2 separate regions of the Homo sapiens genome follow, and region 2 is linked to region 1. A link means that fine-mapping ties the variant in region 1 to the expression of a gene that starts in the linked region. Tissue or cell type: whole blood. Region 1 holds a variant in brackets; the other region holds the start of a gene. All regions are shown on one strand. Distances are between the middles of the regions.

Region 1 (8,105 bases):
CTCTCACTCACCAGACTGCCCAGGCTGGTCTCGAACTCCTGGGCTCAAGCCATCCTCCCACTTCAGCCTCCCAAGGTGTTGGGATTATAGGTGTGAGCTACTGTGCCCGGCCCCTTATGATTTTCTTAACATTTTATTTTTCTCTAGCTTACTTTAGGAATAAAGTCTGTAATATGGATAACATACAGAATACATGTTTATCAACTGTTTAGGTTATCGCTAAGGCTTCTAGTCAGCAGTAGGTTGTTAGTAGTTAACTTTTGAGGGAGTCAAAAGTTAGGTACAGATTTTCAACCACATGGGGAGATGGGGGTTAGCACCTCTAAACCCTCGTGTTGTTCAAGGGTCAGCTGTACTTATTTCTTCTTGTATCCCCCCTCTTCATTTGGTTTCTCTGCCTGATTCTCAGAACTCACATCGTTCATTCCCCATGTAGCCCCTGAGTGTTGAGCACTAGTCTGGTTAGAGGTGAAAAAGATGAAGACCTGGTTCTTGCCTTTGAAAGTCTTGGAGAGGGGCCCTGGGGGTGTTGCATGCACTAATGAAAGGCACAGGAGAGGGAGGGATTGGGCCTGAGGCATGCTGGGGGAGAATAATTCTTCTCCCACTGCTTAAGCAAGAGCATGCCCCAAGGTTCAGCTCAAGGTCCTTTCTTTCTCTGTGAACTCCTTGTCAGCCTGTAGGATCTCACCACCATCTCTGAGCAGATGCCTCCAGCTCCAGCTCCATGTGCCAAGGGCCAGACTCACCCCTACTCCCCACCGAACACTTTGAACTTGGATCCATGGTCAACAGACTCTACTGCATCCCCCTAAACTGGCTGTCACCATAGCCACATCTCTTCGAGTTACTGGTTCGAACTTCTGTCATTTCCTTCCGAATCAACTTCGCTGTCTCTCATTTCCTTATGTCCCGTCCTTTATCAAACCTTATTCTGCTTCGTACATCATGTTCCTCGGGCTCCAGTCAAGCCCTTGTTTTTTATCCCTGCTGTGAGGCAAGTTCTTTATCTTTTGGGAAGCCTCCCTGTACCATCCCAGCCAAGAGTGACCTCGCCCTCCTCTGGATTCTGAAAGCTCTTATTGTCTGCCAGCTTATCACATAGCATTTGGCACTGTTGAAGACTCCTTTGATACTTATTCCTTTTTTTTGCCCATGTTTGCGACTTAGCTTCCGAATTTTAGGAGTCAGGTCCTACATACAATACCTGCCTGCATCCCACACAGGATTCAGGAAAGGGTAGTTAGTAACTATTAGTTGGTTGATTGATCATGCAGACAGGGGGCCACGTATGGAGGAAGGGGGCGTCCCTGAGACCCTGTACCCTAGAGACTGCTTGGGCTGATGAATAATTTTTCCGTTCATGACTGTGAAGCAGTTACAAAAGTGAGTCATCACCCTACCCAGATGTGTTTTCTTATTAATTATCTTTTTTTTTTTTTTTTTTTTTTTGACGGAGTCTCGCTCTGTCACCCAGGCCGGAGTGCGGTGGCACTATCTCAGCTCACTGCAACCTCTGCCTCCCAGGTTCAAGTGATTCTACTGCCTCAGCTTCCCAAGTAGCTGGGACTACAGGCACGTGCCACCACGCCCAGCTAATTTTCGTATTTTTAATAGAGACAGGATTTCACAATATTGGCCAGGCTGGTTTTGAACTCGTGACCTCATGATCTGCCCGTCTTGGCTTCCCAACGTGCTAGGATTACAGGCATGAGCCACCGTGCTCGGCCTATTAATTATCATTTTAAGACAACCCAATTCATCCTACAGAGGACAAGGGCCTACAGCAAATAAGGCCTATTTTGGTTGACAGTTTTCAACTTGACTGAAACGAAAAAAATAATAAGAGGGTTGGTCTTATCTGATGCCGTTGAACTCAGGAAAACTCAGGTTGGTGGAAATATCATCAGTCTTTTTGCTTTGGGATCACGGATTCTCTGCTGTCTGCCGTTCGTGTGTGTGGCTTCATATGTAGCAACCTATCTATTTGCAGAGGCCACAAGGAGAGACCAGTAGCGTGTTTTTCACGGCCAACGCTAATCACTAAGGATGGTTAATAAAGGAAAACCAAAGTGACTTCTGGATTGAGATGCTAGGATGAACCCAAACAGTAAACCCTTAGAATGTATTCGTGAGTCTTCCATACTCTGAGAGATTAACTTTGGGGAATCCTAAAGAATTAAATGTCTGCAGGACTAGTGTGTTCTGCTGAGGTCAGGCCACAGCAGATCAGCCTCCTGGTTTGTAATGGCCCGGAAAGGTCCCTTGCCCTTGGCTGGGGGCCCTACTGGGATTTGCAATGACAGTGATTTCTGTGTGTTGCCTGGAGTGATGCATTGTTGTCTGTGATTGTATCTGTTCGTCTGTGTGATGCAATGTCAAAGTGGTGTCGGAGACGGCTGTTAATGTTTAACAGCATCAAAACTGTCCCCTCTTTGCTGTTACAAAACTGAGGAGTCACAGGCTATGAAAGCTTTCATGGCCATTTTAATTTCACAAACCTGTAAGGACTGAAGGTGAAGGTCTTGGCCATCTAGGTTCAAATGAAGTTTTGCTTTTACCTTCTTCTTTTTTTTTTTTTTTTTTAGGCAGTCTTGCTCTGTCACTCAGGCCGGAGTGCAGCTGCACGATCTTGGCTCACTGCAACCTCTGCCTCCTGAGTTCAAGCAATTCTCCTGTCTCAGCCTCCCTGGTAGCTGGGATTACAGGCGCACACCACCACGCCTGGCTAATTTTTGTATTTTTAGTAGAGGTGGGGTTTTGCCATGTTGGCCATGCTAGTCTCAAACTCCTGACCTCAGGTCATCCACCTGCCTCGGCCTCCCAAAGTGTTGGGATTACAGGTGTGAGCCACCGTGCCCGGCCCGCTTTTACCTTCTTATGGGTGAGAGCCCATCTCCAAGAACAGAAAAGTATCTTGGTCCTGTCTATTTCTGTAGCATGTCTGACCTCAAAAGCGAGTGTGTGGATTCGTCACCCGGCCTCTCCTCCCACACTGCAGAGAGAAGATGCAAATAACTCAGCTGCCGGTGGGGGACTCCCCACCGCTGGATGTGATGCTCTTGCCTCCTCTTCATGGCTGGTTTGGGACCATTTTGCAAGTGTAGGCTTGAGCATTGCCTTTCTCTTGTTTTTATGATGGGTGAGAGGGGGGAGAGAGAAAGAAGGTGGGGGGGATTCTATAGCCGGTTTCCTCCCTCTAGTTTCTCCCTCACATTTGACCTTTTTATACCCTGGTATCATGATGATTTCTACAAAGCACAGCCCTGATTGTGACTTCTCCCTGGCTCAGAATCCACTGATGGTTTCTTCTCCTTTATAGAATCGAAATTTCTTAGTTCTTGGTGTCCTCATGGCCTCCCATGATCTGATGCCATCCTTCACTACTATATTTCTCACCTCCCATGCCTCTTAAACTCTAATGAATGGATCCACCTGCTTTTCCCCCACAGCCTCTACCCACACGGTTTCTCTCTCACCTTGGCTCAGGCTGGCCCCATGGCCTAGAATATTGCCCCTGTGGCTTGTTCTTCTGACCCATCCTGCCCAATCTCTCGCAGGAGCCTCTGTTTTCCTCTGTTAAATGAGGGCGATCATAGAATTTTCCTTTTTGGTTTGTTAGAGGGATTAAGTGACATGAAACATGTGAAGCATAGAACAGCGCCTGGTCCAAAGTGAGTGCTCAGTACAAGATCCTCACAGCCACTCCTGCAGCAGATTGAAACCCAGCAATTAGAGAGGGAGGAAGAGTCCCCCCAGCAGCCACGTCAGTAACTTTAGGAAGGAAGAGATGGGCCCTGCTGTCAGGCATGTAAGAGAAAAGACCAGGAAGGTGGGATGCGGACACAGAAGGAATTGATATGTCCAAGGGAAAGGCACATTGTCACCCCCTCTGGGAGCCCCAGAGGGTGCCACACCCCTAAACGGAAAATCCCTCGATTGACATTAGGATGCTGGCTGTGTCACCTCGGTCTCCCCAAGATTGAACGCAAGACGAGCCATGGTGAGTGAGTCCTGCTATAGGTGGCCAGCCTCGTCGTCTTTATTTATTTATTTATTTTTGAGACAGGGTCTCACTCTGACGTCCAGGTTGGAGTGCAGTGGCATGATCTTGGCTCACTACAACCTCTGCCTCCCGGGTTCAAGTAATTCTCCTGCCTCAGCCTCCTGAGTAGCTGGGATTACAGGCGCCCGCCACCATGCCTAGCCAATTTTTTGTATTTTTAGTAGAGATGGGTTTTCGCCATGTTGGCCAGGCTGGTCTCGAACTCCTGACCTCAAATGATCCACCTACCTCAGCCTTCCAAAGTGTTGGGATTACAGACGTGAGCCACCGTCCCTGGTCCCACCCTCATCTTCTAGGTGGGCTTTCTCTTCACCATTGCCAAGAGGCTGGGGCAGCTTCCCTCTGGGTGTACATGGAGAGCCTGAGGTGGTGTATCTCATGAAGCGGCTTATGGGTCACAGGGTCTTTTGATCTAAACTATCTCTGTGGGTCTTGGGGGCTTTTTTTTTTTAATCATGGCAAAATATGCATGACATGAAATCCACCATCTCCATCAGTTTTAAATGTATAGTTCAGTGGCTTTGAGTATACCCACGTGTTTGTGCAGCCATCATCACCACCATTAATCTCCAGAATGCTTCCATCTTGCACCAGTGACACTCTGGACCCATTAAACACAAACTTCCCATCATTCCCTGCCCACAGCACCTGGTCACCTCCATTCTGCAACCTGTCGCTATTAATTTGACTTCTCTAGGTGCCTCATAGAAGTGAAGCAAATGGTATTTGTCCCTTTGTGTCTGGCTGTTGCACTGAGCATAATGTCCTTAAGGTCCATCCACATGGTTGCATATGTCAAAATTTCCTTCCAATTAGCCAGGCATGGTGGTGCGCACCTGTAGTCCCAGCTACTTGGGAGGCTGAAGCAGGAGAATCGCTTGAACCCAGGAGGCGGAGCTTGCAGTGAGCCGAGATTGCGCCACTGCACTCCAGCTTGGGTGACAGAGCAAGACTTCGTCTCAAAAAAAAAAAAAAAAAAAAAATTCCTTCCTTCTTAAGG[C/T]TGAGTAATATTCTATTGTGTTTATTTTACTACGACTTGCATTGTTTCCACCTTCTGGCTCTTGTGAATAATGTTGCCATGAACAGGCAGCAAGACCCTCCCTTCAGGACTCTGCTTTCAGTTCTTTTTGGTATATACCTATTAATGGAATTGCTGGACCATATGGCAATTCTTTGTTTAATTTTTTTGAAGAATTAACACACTATTTTCCACAGGGGCTGTACTATTTTACATTCCCACCAGAAGGGCACAAGGGTTCCAACAGTTCTCAATCCTTACTAGTACCTGTTCTTTTCTGTTTTGTTGATATTTGTTTATTTGTTTGTTTTGAGACAGAGCCTTGCTCCGTTGCCCAGGCTGGAGTGAGAGTGGTGTGATCCTAGCTCACTGCACCCTCCGCCTCCTGGATTCTCCTGCCTCAGCCTCCCAAGTAGCTGGGACTACAGGTATACACCACCACGACTGGCTAATTTTTGTATTTTTAGTAGAGACGGGGTATCACCACGTTGGCCGGGTTGGTCTTGAACTCCTGGCCTCAAGTGATCCACCCGTCTTGGCCTCCCACAGTGCTGGGATTACAGGCATGAGCCATTGTGCCTGGCCTTGTCTGGTTTTTTTTTTTTAAGAACCTGTCCTAATGGGTGTGAGCTAATATCTCACTGTAGTTTTGATTTGCATTTCCCTCATGATTAGTGATATTGAGCATCTTTAAATGTGCTTATTGGTCATTTTTATATCTTCTTTGGAGGAATATCTTTTGCTCATTTTTTTAAATTGGGCTGTTTGCTTTTTATTGTTCAGTCTGGACTCTTTTTGGACCCGGGGTAACTGCAGTGCCTACCTTTCAGCCACTGGTGATAGTAACAACAAAAATCCTAGCTTTCATTGAGCATTTACTTCGTCCACTAGGTGAAATGTTTACATGGATGCCCCACCCCCACCCCCTTTAATCTCTCACAGCAATCTTTTGAGAAAGATACTGTGATCATCTGCATTTTACACTTGGAGAAATTGAAGCTGGAGCCGTTGCCCAGGGTCTTGGAGCTAGTATGTAGTAAAACAACAGCTTAGCTCTGGTCTGACTCCATCCTTAGACGATTGTACTTATTTTCTTCCCCCGACCCAAGGAGCTGGCATTGAAACCTCTTCATAAATAAGTTTATCCATTTGCTTAATAGGGAACCACTCGGTCCTCAGGATCTTGGTTTCTCTAGAAAACCATATTTAATTCTATATAAAGAATCAGTTCCTAAAACCCCAAAGGTTTGCATCTGAAAGCAAACACAGAAATATGCGGCATTTTGAGTGCTAAATAGTCAGCTGCTCCAAAAACCTTTCTAAACGGAGTGATAGGATATATTCATGAAGGATCCAAGCCCTGCCCAAGCTCATTTAGTTGGTGGCTGCAGTATTGCTCTTGGGGTCCAATCCTTTCTCCACTTGTAACTAATGACTTTGTGATCCTCAGGCCCCTTTCAGTGGAGACCTCACATGAGCCTGTCTTTGTTCGTTATCTGTCCAGGTTTGATGGTGGCGAGGGCAGAGTGAAGGCAAGAGACCTTCATCTCGCCCCTCTGGAGGCACCAGCTTTCCACACAGTGGTTCTTTGGGGGAACATTCTCCGTTCTTTTTATGTTGGTTTTTATCTGGCCTTGGGTTCACACAGCTGGGGCCGGGGCCGGGGCCAGGACCAGAGCTGTGACTTAGGGTTGGGAGGAAGTTGGCCAAAACATTCTCCAGCAGGGCTTGGGCAGGCCCAGGAAGTCCCGCCTAAAACACAGTGGACAAAGCTGCCCTTGTCCACAGGCCTGGGGGTGGGAGGCATCTGCTCAGTGACACAAGCTTGGCCATTGTTTGTTGTGACCTCAGCCAACGTTTTTTAGCTGAGAAAGGGGAAAAAGAGGGAGAGTGGGAAAAAAAGAAAGGCCTCCAGAAACATTGCATCTGGAAAGTCCAGAACAAGTTGTTAATTTCCCAGCAAGCACTGGAGCGGATTTGGAAGGAACTATGCAATGTAGTGGGTTCTTTGTGAAAGAACAGCAATGAGCAAAGCCACAGGAACCTCCGCTGGGGTGCCCAGAACACTGGCCCTGGGCTAGCGACTTGCCTCAGCCCCATTTCCCGGAGAGGCTGCCATGAAGAGGAAGCCGGCGGAGTCTTGGTGCTGAGTCTGAGGGCTTCAGGCAGGACCCAAGACTCTCCTCTGAGGTAGCAGCCCCCAGAGAAGGTTAGCTGTTCTCTGATGGTAAGAATTGATTTTTCTTGCCTGCAGATGTATGCTCCAGTTTGCTTTTCTCTGCATGTTTCTAAAATGACTGTGCCATGGTAAAGAGGCAGCTCTGAAAACTGAGATTTGGGGTCTAACTGCTGAGCTGTGGTGGTCTGGGGACCCTGTGTGCTAGGGGGCACCTTTCACAGATCCAAGGCATGAGCAGGGAGGAAAAAAAAAAAAGACGTGGGTCATTGTGTGAGAGATCAGGAAAAGCGGATGGGAGGAGGAGAAAGATTTATGAAGGATGTCTTGGAGAGAAAGGAAGTCTTGGCTCCCCTAGTTACCTGGGGAGCAGTTTCGTAGTTGGAGCTGTGTGATGGAGAAGCAGAGTGGTGATGTGATTTTAATGGAGTCCAAACCTTGCTTCCTCCATGTAACTTTTTCCAAGTAAGAAACTTGGATTCTACCCACCTATCTGGCTTTTACCCCACGGCCCAGTTCTAGCTGGGGCATTGTAAGGCAAAAGCCATTTGAGGACTATAAAACTTTATGAAGGTAAGTGGGAGCTCCTGGGGTCATGGCTCCCTAGCAGAAGTACCTGCCCAGTAATGCACTGTGCTTCCAGGCTTGGCTGAGACATCTTTCCAGCTTGGTGGTGGAGGCTGCAACAGTGATGATGGAAGCTCTTCTGATACTTAGCAGTACAACAGCCTTGTTTCACCAATCTTTCCACCCCCAGAAGTTACGCATCCATCTTCTTTCTTTGCAAAGGAGGACCTCCAAGAGAGTGGTGATCACTCTCTTGAGGCTCTGTACAGCTGTGAGAG
Region 2 (8,105 bases), 130 kb after region 1:
GGAGAAGTGGGCAGCCATAGTGCATGACCTGATTTCATGGCCATGGGGCTCACTGCGGGGCTGTAAGGGGACAAGAGCAGAAGCAGGAAGAGCTGTTAGGAGGCAGCGGTGATGCTGCCTGCACAAGGCAGGTGCAAGGGAGGCGGGAAGAACGGTCTGGTTCTGGATGTACCTTGAAGGTAGAGTCAAGATGATTTCTTGATAGATTGGAGTGGGTTGTGACCGAAAGAGAAACACTGAGAATGATGCCAAGGACCTCAATCCAAGTCATCAAAAGGATGGATTGTCATTTTCTGCAATGGGGACAGCTGTGGGAGGAGGGTCCTTCCCCATTCTCTGTCTCCCCCGCCACCTTCTCCATACCCCCTTTTCCCTCTCAATGCGGACTTCTCTGCAGGTGCTGGCTCCAGGCCAGAGGGCAGGAGGGTCGTCTTGGCCTTCAGCTCATAGCAGGCAAGGTCGAGCAATGGGGAAGGGGTGGCGTCTGGGTCCCAGCTAATGGCCAAGATGGAGCTCCTGCTTGAGGGGACAGGGCCAGCTTCTGGGAAGCATCTTTCAGTCCAGCGAGGAGAGCGAGACCAAAACTGGGATCCTCTGCCTGGAGATGAAGCCTTCTCCTCTAGAGCAGTCTTTGGGTTTTGGGAGAGTTTATGGCCCCAGCTCAGACTTAACAAATCGACTCACAATACATCATCTCCAACAACTTGTTTGGCTAAGGAGCATAAGCTCTCCCTCTGATAGAAGATGTTTATGCAGGTTTTCAAACAAACCTCCAGGTCATGACCCCTCACTCTCAGCATCAACACAGCTGCCTGCGGTCCCCTGGGGCCCCTCCTGGGCACAGCAACCTGGAGAATGTGGACTGTACCAGGCTGCTTCCGACCTGGGTCCAGCTCCTTCCTCCTTGTGCCTGGAGAGGACAGCAAAGACTGGAGGGCTCTGGCTGCCTTCTGCCTCGCCCAGGGCCTCTTTCATTGACATGGTAACCCCACCTCCTCACCTACTTGTCCTCTAGGCTCAGGCCTCCTGTGACGTAGACAAAGGAAGCCTAAATGGACAGGCTGGCAGACCTGGACTTTCCTTCCTTCTGGCATTGCCATTTAGCAACCATGTGACCCCAGGCTGGTGACATGCCTTTAGGAGGCCCCACTTCTCACTTGTAACACTGGCTTCGCCTCATCTGCTGCAGGCTTGATGTGGACAGGGGTGCGATCCAGGAGGCACTTCCAGTCGCCCCCTACTAGTGGCTCAGAGCAAGGGGCCGAGGCCTCTGACCTCACTCTCCCTCCATCCCCAGGGCTGCAAGGAAGCTCTGGAATGAATGCGATTCCAGGGTGTGGCTTGGGCTCCCGTTTGTTTTCAAGGCTAGTGACTGTCCTGTTTCTAACTGCTCTTGAGAATAAATGCACGCTACAGGATGGTGAAAGCCTAGGAGAGGAAGGACTCCTATTCAGAAGTAATATTCTCACTGGGCGCAGTGGCTCATGCCTGTAATCCCAGCACTTGGGGAGGCCAAAGCAGGCAGATCATGAGGTCAGGGGATCGAGACCGGCCTGACCAACAAGGTGAAATCCCATCTCTGCTAAAAACACAAAAATTAGCTGGGCATGGTGGTGAGCGCCTGTAATCCCAGCTACTTGGGAGGCTGAGGCAGGAAAATCGCTTGAACCTGGGAGGCAGAGGTTGCAGTGAGCCGAGATCGTGCCATTGCACTCCAGCCTGGGCGCAGAATGAGGCTCTGTCTTAAAAAAAAAAAAACAAAAAAAACAAACAAACAAAAAAAAAAAAACTCACAAAGTGATGGAAAAAAATTAGAAAGTTCACACACACACCCCAATATGCAGGTTTCCTGAGAAATCTCTGAAACTGTACTGGGCAGAGCGGCTGGGAGGGATGAGTCTGCCCCTTGGTGCCTGAACCTCTCGGTCCTTCCAGAGTGACATGAGGTGGGCCTGGCAGGTGGCTTTCTCCCAGCAGCAGGGACCTACCTTCTGCTGCCACTAGCCTGTTAGTAAGTAGGCTAAAATCCCCACTTTACACTTTGAGATGCAAGGCGGGCGGATCACCTGAGGTCAGGAGTTTACGAGACCAGCCTGACCAATATGGTGAAACCTCGACTCTACTAAAAATACCAAAAAAAAATTAGCTGGGCGTGGTGGCAGACACCTGTAGTCCCAGCTTCTCAGGGGACTGAGACAGGAGAATTGCTTGAAACCAGGAGGCGGAGGTTGCAGTGAGCCAAGATCGTGCCCAGCCTAAGTGACAGAGGGAGACTCCGTCTAAAAAAAAACCAGTTTACCTGCCTGGAGACCGTGGGGTTTATTCTTCATCATTCTCACCCCAGGGCAAAAAGAGACAACTCTCCATCCACGGTGGCAAGGCTGGGGTTCTGAGTGTGTCCCCTCGAGCACTGCGCTCCGCTAAGGAAAGTGCACGCCCACCCTCCCTTCCTTCTGGGTGACAAGAATCCAGGTGTGCAGCGTCCTCACTAGGTTGCTTCCTCGTGCTTGATACTCCCCGCTGAGCTGCACAGACGCGAAGCCTGCCTTTGCACAGCTCCGTCTCTGACCACTCAGTTATTTATCCATTCACTCAGCAAACACGTTTTCTTGCCTGCTCACTCCAAGTCCACTGCAGACGGACACCCTGCAGCCTGCCATGGACCCACAGATAGATTGTGTTTGGCCCACACCATGTTTTGTTTTGTTTTTGTTTTTGTTTTTGTTTTGTTTTTTTGAGATGGAGTCTCACACTTGTCACCCAGGCTGGAGTGCAATGGTGCAATCTCGGCTCACTGCAACCTCTGCCTCCCGGGTTCAAGCGATTCTCCAGCCTCAGCCTCCCAAGTAGCTGGGATTACAGTCACCTGCCACCATGCCCGGCTAATTTTTTGTATTTTTAGTAGAGACAGGGTTTCACCATGTTGGCCAGGCTGGTCTCGAACTCCTAACCTTGTAATCTCCCCACTCAGTCTCCCAAAGTGCTGGGATTACAGACGTGAGCCACCATTAAAATTTTGAATTAATTGCCAAAGTTGAAAAGTGTGGAAATTGCAAGAAAAATTCTGATTTTTGGATTTCTCTTGAATAATTTAAAAAAACCCAAAAATCTCACCATCCCATGTGACCACGTTCTCTGGCAGCCCCTTCCCGAGGTGACACAGGCCTGGCTGCCCCCTGCTGGTCCCTTCAGGCAGTTCACCTTCACTCCCTGTGACTGATGGACAATAACAAAACGAGTGTTTAGCATTAGCCATGTGCCAGTTTCTAAGTGTGTCAGACATATTGACTCACATCAGCCTCACAATGACAGTGTGGTAGATGCTATGATGCCCATTTATTCAAGAAAGACTTGCTGGGGGCCCAAGCCTATCAGGTTCTGGCAATGGAAATGCATCCGGGAACAACACAGACAAAATCCCATCCTTCACGGAGCTTTCATTCCGGTGAGGGGACATGCAGCGTGCCGATGATGGTGGGGGTTGTGCTATTATAGATAGAGGGTCAGTATAGGCCTGGCTGAGCAGGTGACATTTAAGCAGAGACATGACTGCAGTGAAGGTTTAGAAGAGTGTCCCAGGTGGAAAGAGGTGAAGAAACAAGCCTGGGGCCACACAGCTAGTTAAGTAGCCAAGCTGGGACTTGAACCCATGCTGGCCCCAGAGTCTGTGCTCCTAACCATTGCATTCTAGGGCTTGATATGAGATGCCAGCCCCGCCCCGAGATGCTCAGAGTTAGTGAGGAAGAGAAACAGGGAACATGGCTGCTGTTAGAGGGCTGGGGCTGGGGGTGCCGGAGGCCCCAGCTCTGAGGGTTCCAACCTCCTGTCCTGTTCTAGTATCGTCCCGGGAGGCCGAGATGAATTGCCTGCCTGCCCTGGGCTCTTTATTTTAATCTCACTAGGGTTCTGGGAGCACCCCCCCCCACCGCTCCCGCCCTCCACAAAGCTCCTGGGCCCCTCCTCCCTTCAAGGATTGCGAAGAACTGGTCGCAAATCCTCCTAAGCCACCAGCATCTCGGTCTTCAGCTCACACCAGCCTTGAGCCCAGCCTGCGGCCAGGGGACCACGCACGTCCCACCCACCCAGCGACTCCCCAGCCGCTGCCCACTCTTCCTCACTCATGGGGAACAGCAAAAGTGGGGCCCTGTCCAAGGAGATCCTGGAGGAGCTGCAGCTGAACACCAAGTTCTCGGAGGAGGAGCTGTGCTCCTGGTACCAGTCCTTCCTGAAGGACTGTCCCACCGGCCGCATCACCCAGCAGCAGTTCCAGAGCATCTACGCCAAGTTCTTCCCCGACACCGACCCCAAGGCCTACGCCCAGCATGTGTTCCGCAGCTTCGATTCCAACCTCGACGGCACCCTGGACTTCAAGGAGTACGTCATCGCCCTGCACATGACCACCGCGGGCAAGACCAACCAGAAGCTGGAGTGGGCCTTCTCCCTCTACGACGTGGACGGTAACGGGACCATCAGCAAGAATGAAGTGCTGGAGATCGTCATGGTCAGTCTCCCCTCTCCCCTTCTGGCTGGGCGGTGCCGGGGTCGCTCCGGGCTGGGGGTCCCCTGCTGCAGCTGCTGCAGAGGGAGTGGATCTGTGGGTGGAGCGGGGGATGCGGGCCACTGGCTCTGAGAGCGTGGTGCTCCGAGATGCTGATATTGATAGAGGGGTGGGCACTTGCCCACAGCTTCGTTGTCTTCCCGGAGCAGAATCTGAGTGTTTCCTAATACAGCCATGTTATGCTTGGCTTCACGATGTTTGGGTCAACAACGGACGATATAGACCACTGTGGTCCCATAAGATTGTAATGGAGCTGAAAAATTCCTACTGCCTAGTGACGTCATAGCACAGTTACTTTATTTTTCAAATGCATTTAGTGTAGCCTAAGTGTATCCGTAAAGTCTGTAGTTGTGTACGGTAATGTCCTAGTTCTTCACATTCACTCACTACTCACTCACTGACTCACCCAGAGCAACTCCCAGTCCTGCAAGCTCCACTCATGGTGAGTGCCCTAGACAGGTCTACCATTTTGTATCTTGGTTTTTTATTTTTTATTTTTTTGAGATGGAGTCTCACTCTGTAGCCCAGAGCTGGAGTGCAATAGTGCGATCTTGGCTCACTGCAACCTCTGCCTCCCGAGTTCAAGCAATTCTCCTGTCTCAGCCTCCCGAGTAGCTGGGATTACAGGTGTGCACCACTATGCCTAGCTAATTTTTGTATTTTTAGTAGAGACGGGGTTTCACCATGTTGGTCAGGCTGGTCTCAAACTCCCGACCTCCAGCGATCCGCCAGCCTCAGCCTCCCAAAGTGCTGGGATTTACAGGCATGAGCCACTGTGCCCGGCCCATTTTTTATCTTTATACTGTATTTTTACTGCATGATTTCTATGTTTAGCTATGTTTAGATGCACAAATACTTACCATCGTGTGACAACTGCCTGCAACATTCAGGACAGTCACGTGCTGCACAGGTTTGTAGCCTAGGAGCAAAAGGCTGGACCATGGAGCTCAGGGATGTAGTCGGCTCTACCATCTGTGTTCGTGCAAGGATGCTCTATGATGTTCCCACATAGAAGTTGCCTTAAGATGTGTTTCTCGGAATGTATTCCTGTCTCTGAGCGACACGTGACTATATTTACATTTTTTCTTTCTCTCCATCCTTTGTTTCTTCCTTCCTTTATTAAAATGTCCTTTGAAATTTTCAGCAGTACACATTCAAGTTGAATCACTGTTCATTCTAAACACACAATATGCTTCTAATATAAAGTAGAAAGAGGTCAAAGTTGGGGGCATGAACTCTGAGTTCTAGTCCTCATGTTCTCCCCAGCGCGGGGCGGATCATGGCACCACGCATGAGCCCCCGCTTCCCACGCGCGGCGTGGCTCCCCGGCTCCTGACAGTTTCCCTGTGAGGCGCACAGGCTTCCATATGGTTCCCAACACGCCTTCTCCCCTGTCCATACTGTCCTCCTGTCAGATCCTTTGTTGTGAAAGTAATGGCAAAAACCATAATTACTTTTCCACTAACCTCGTAGGTGTCTTGAAAATGGTTTATCTGATATAAAAGTAACTCATGAAATTTAGAAACCTAGGCAAAAGAGACTAACAATTGCCTCTAATTCCAACATCCAGGGAAAACTTTTCTTAGTATATCAGTATATACCTTTTCAGTCTTTTACCTATATAATTTTAAATAATGTTAAAGCTATGACATATTCACATACGATTTTTTATCATACATTTTTCAGTTACTCTTTTATCATGAGTGCTTTCCATATCATTACATATTCTTCCAAAACACTTTTTTTTTTTCTTCAGACAGAGTTTTGCTCTTGTCGCCCAGGCTGGAGTGCAGTGGCGTGATCTCAGCTCACTGCAACCTCCCCCTCCTGGGTTTGAGCAATTCTCCTGCCTCAGCCTCACGAGTAGCTGGGATTACAGGCACCTGCCCAGCTAATTTTTGTATTTTAGTAGAGACGGGGTTTCACCATGTTGGCCAGGCTGGTCTCGAACTCCTGACCTCAGGTGATCTGCCCGCCTCGGCCTCCCAAAGTGCTGGGATTACAGGCGTGAGCTTCCGCACCCAACCTCTTCCAAAACTCTTTTAATAGCTGCTTGGAATTCTGGCTTATGGAAATGTGGAAATTATTGAACATTCCTATGTTTTTGGACATTAGGTTGTTTCCATTTCTTTCCTATTATACCAGTTCTAATTTCCTTCATTTGATTTTTTTTTAATTTATTCTTTTTCAGTCCCCCTGCCCCTGCCACTTACCTTATTCTTCTAATTCCATTCCTGTTAGTAGAGACTATTGTTTAGATGTTAATAACTTTGTGTGCATTGGCAATCATGCTTTCATTTGCATGATGACAAATGCACAAAAATCTTCCACAGTTATTAGGAGAAATCATAAATAAAACAGCAGAGCATGCAGCTTGTGGTCCATGGGCTTATCCTCAATGCTCAGCTCGGGCCTCCCATTCTGGCAGGCATGTGTCTCTCTCATTGTTATCTTGGCACAGCCTGCAGAGAAAGCTCCCTCGGATTGGCTGTGGGGTCTCTGGGTGGCCTGGGACAGGGACTAAGTCTTCAGAGTGGCATAAACAATGCAGGGCCCAGCAGAAGCCTACAAATTGATACTCATTGAATAAAAGGAGGAGGAAAGGGAGGAGGGGGAAATGAGGGAGGGAGAGAGGGAAGGTAGGAGTCAGGAAGGAAAGAGGGGGAAGCAAGGGGAAGGAGAGAAGGAAGGGAGGGAGGAGAAGGAAAGGAGGAGAGAAAGGAAGAAAGAAGAAAGGAAAGGGAGGGAGGGAGACTCCATCAATGGCTGGGGCTGTGCAAGGTGGCAGAAGGCTCTGCTATTCACCAGATTACAAGTTCATGGGCAGAGCACTGACTGAGGGAGTTAAAAGTGAAGGGTTCTAGTCCCAGCTCTGACTCCAACTAGCAGTGTTGCTGTGGGAAAACCATATAACCTTCCTGGGCCCAGGGTGAGGATTTGATTATTTTTGCAGTCTTTCCTGAGGCTCTGGAGGTCTGTCCCTCCGTGTTGGAAGTGGGGTGGGCAGGCACTCACTGCCAGCTTCTAGCTGGCACACCTGCACATGGTGCCCAAGGCCCTGCACAGATGGATAGGAGTGTAGGAGCCACCTACACTGGCGTCCAGCTCAGGGCTTTGAGTGCTGCCAGCGACGCTGCTGCCCTGGGCTGTGGCTTTGGCCTCTTTACTCCTTTATCCAGCACCAGGGGGCTGAAGGGAAACTTCTCAAAGCTGTCGACCTTCCCTCCAGGATAATTTCACAGCCATTATTGCCCCTGCCTGACCTGCTCACAGGTGTCTCCGGGGAGGCAGAACGCAAATGGTTTGCGAATGTTTTCTCCCATTCCATAAGTTACATTTTGATTTTGTTCATTGTTTCCTCTGACATGGAGAAGCTCTTTAGTGTGATGCTATCCTGCTTGTTTATTCTGGTTTATGTTGCCTTTGCTTTTGGTGTCATATCCAAAAAATTATCGTCAAGACCAGTGCCAAGAAGCTTTTCCCCTACGTTTTCCTCCAGCAGTTTGACGGTCTGAGGTCTTATGTTTAAGTCTTTAATCCATTTTGA

What was found. PIP is the estimated chance that this variant, and not a neighbour inherited with it, causes the effect.
Region 2: RCVRN starts here. The variant in region 1 is fine-mapped to the expression of RCVRN in whole blood (TOPMed, PIP above 0.99).

What each region holds. Positions count from the first base shown.
Region 1 is chr17:10,035,640-10,043,744 of GRCh38, reverse strand. All of the region lies in intron 1 of GAS7 (growth arrest specific 7), which reads left to right. Among named protein-coding and RNA genes, the nearest start is that of RCVRN, 130 kb to the right of the region's middle. The variant C/T (reference allele first, on the strand shown) is at 5,067.
Region 2 is chr17:9,901,196-9,909,300 of GRCh38, reverse strand. It overlaps RCVRN (recoverin), which reads left to right and starts at 4,030. Exons shown (of 3, transcript NM_002903.3): 1 at 4,030-4,501. The coding sequence starts at 4,121.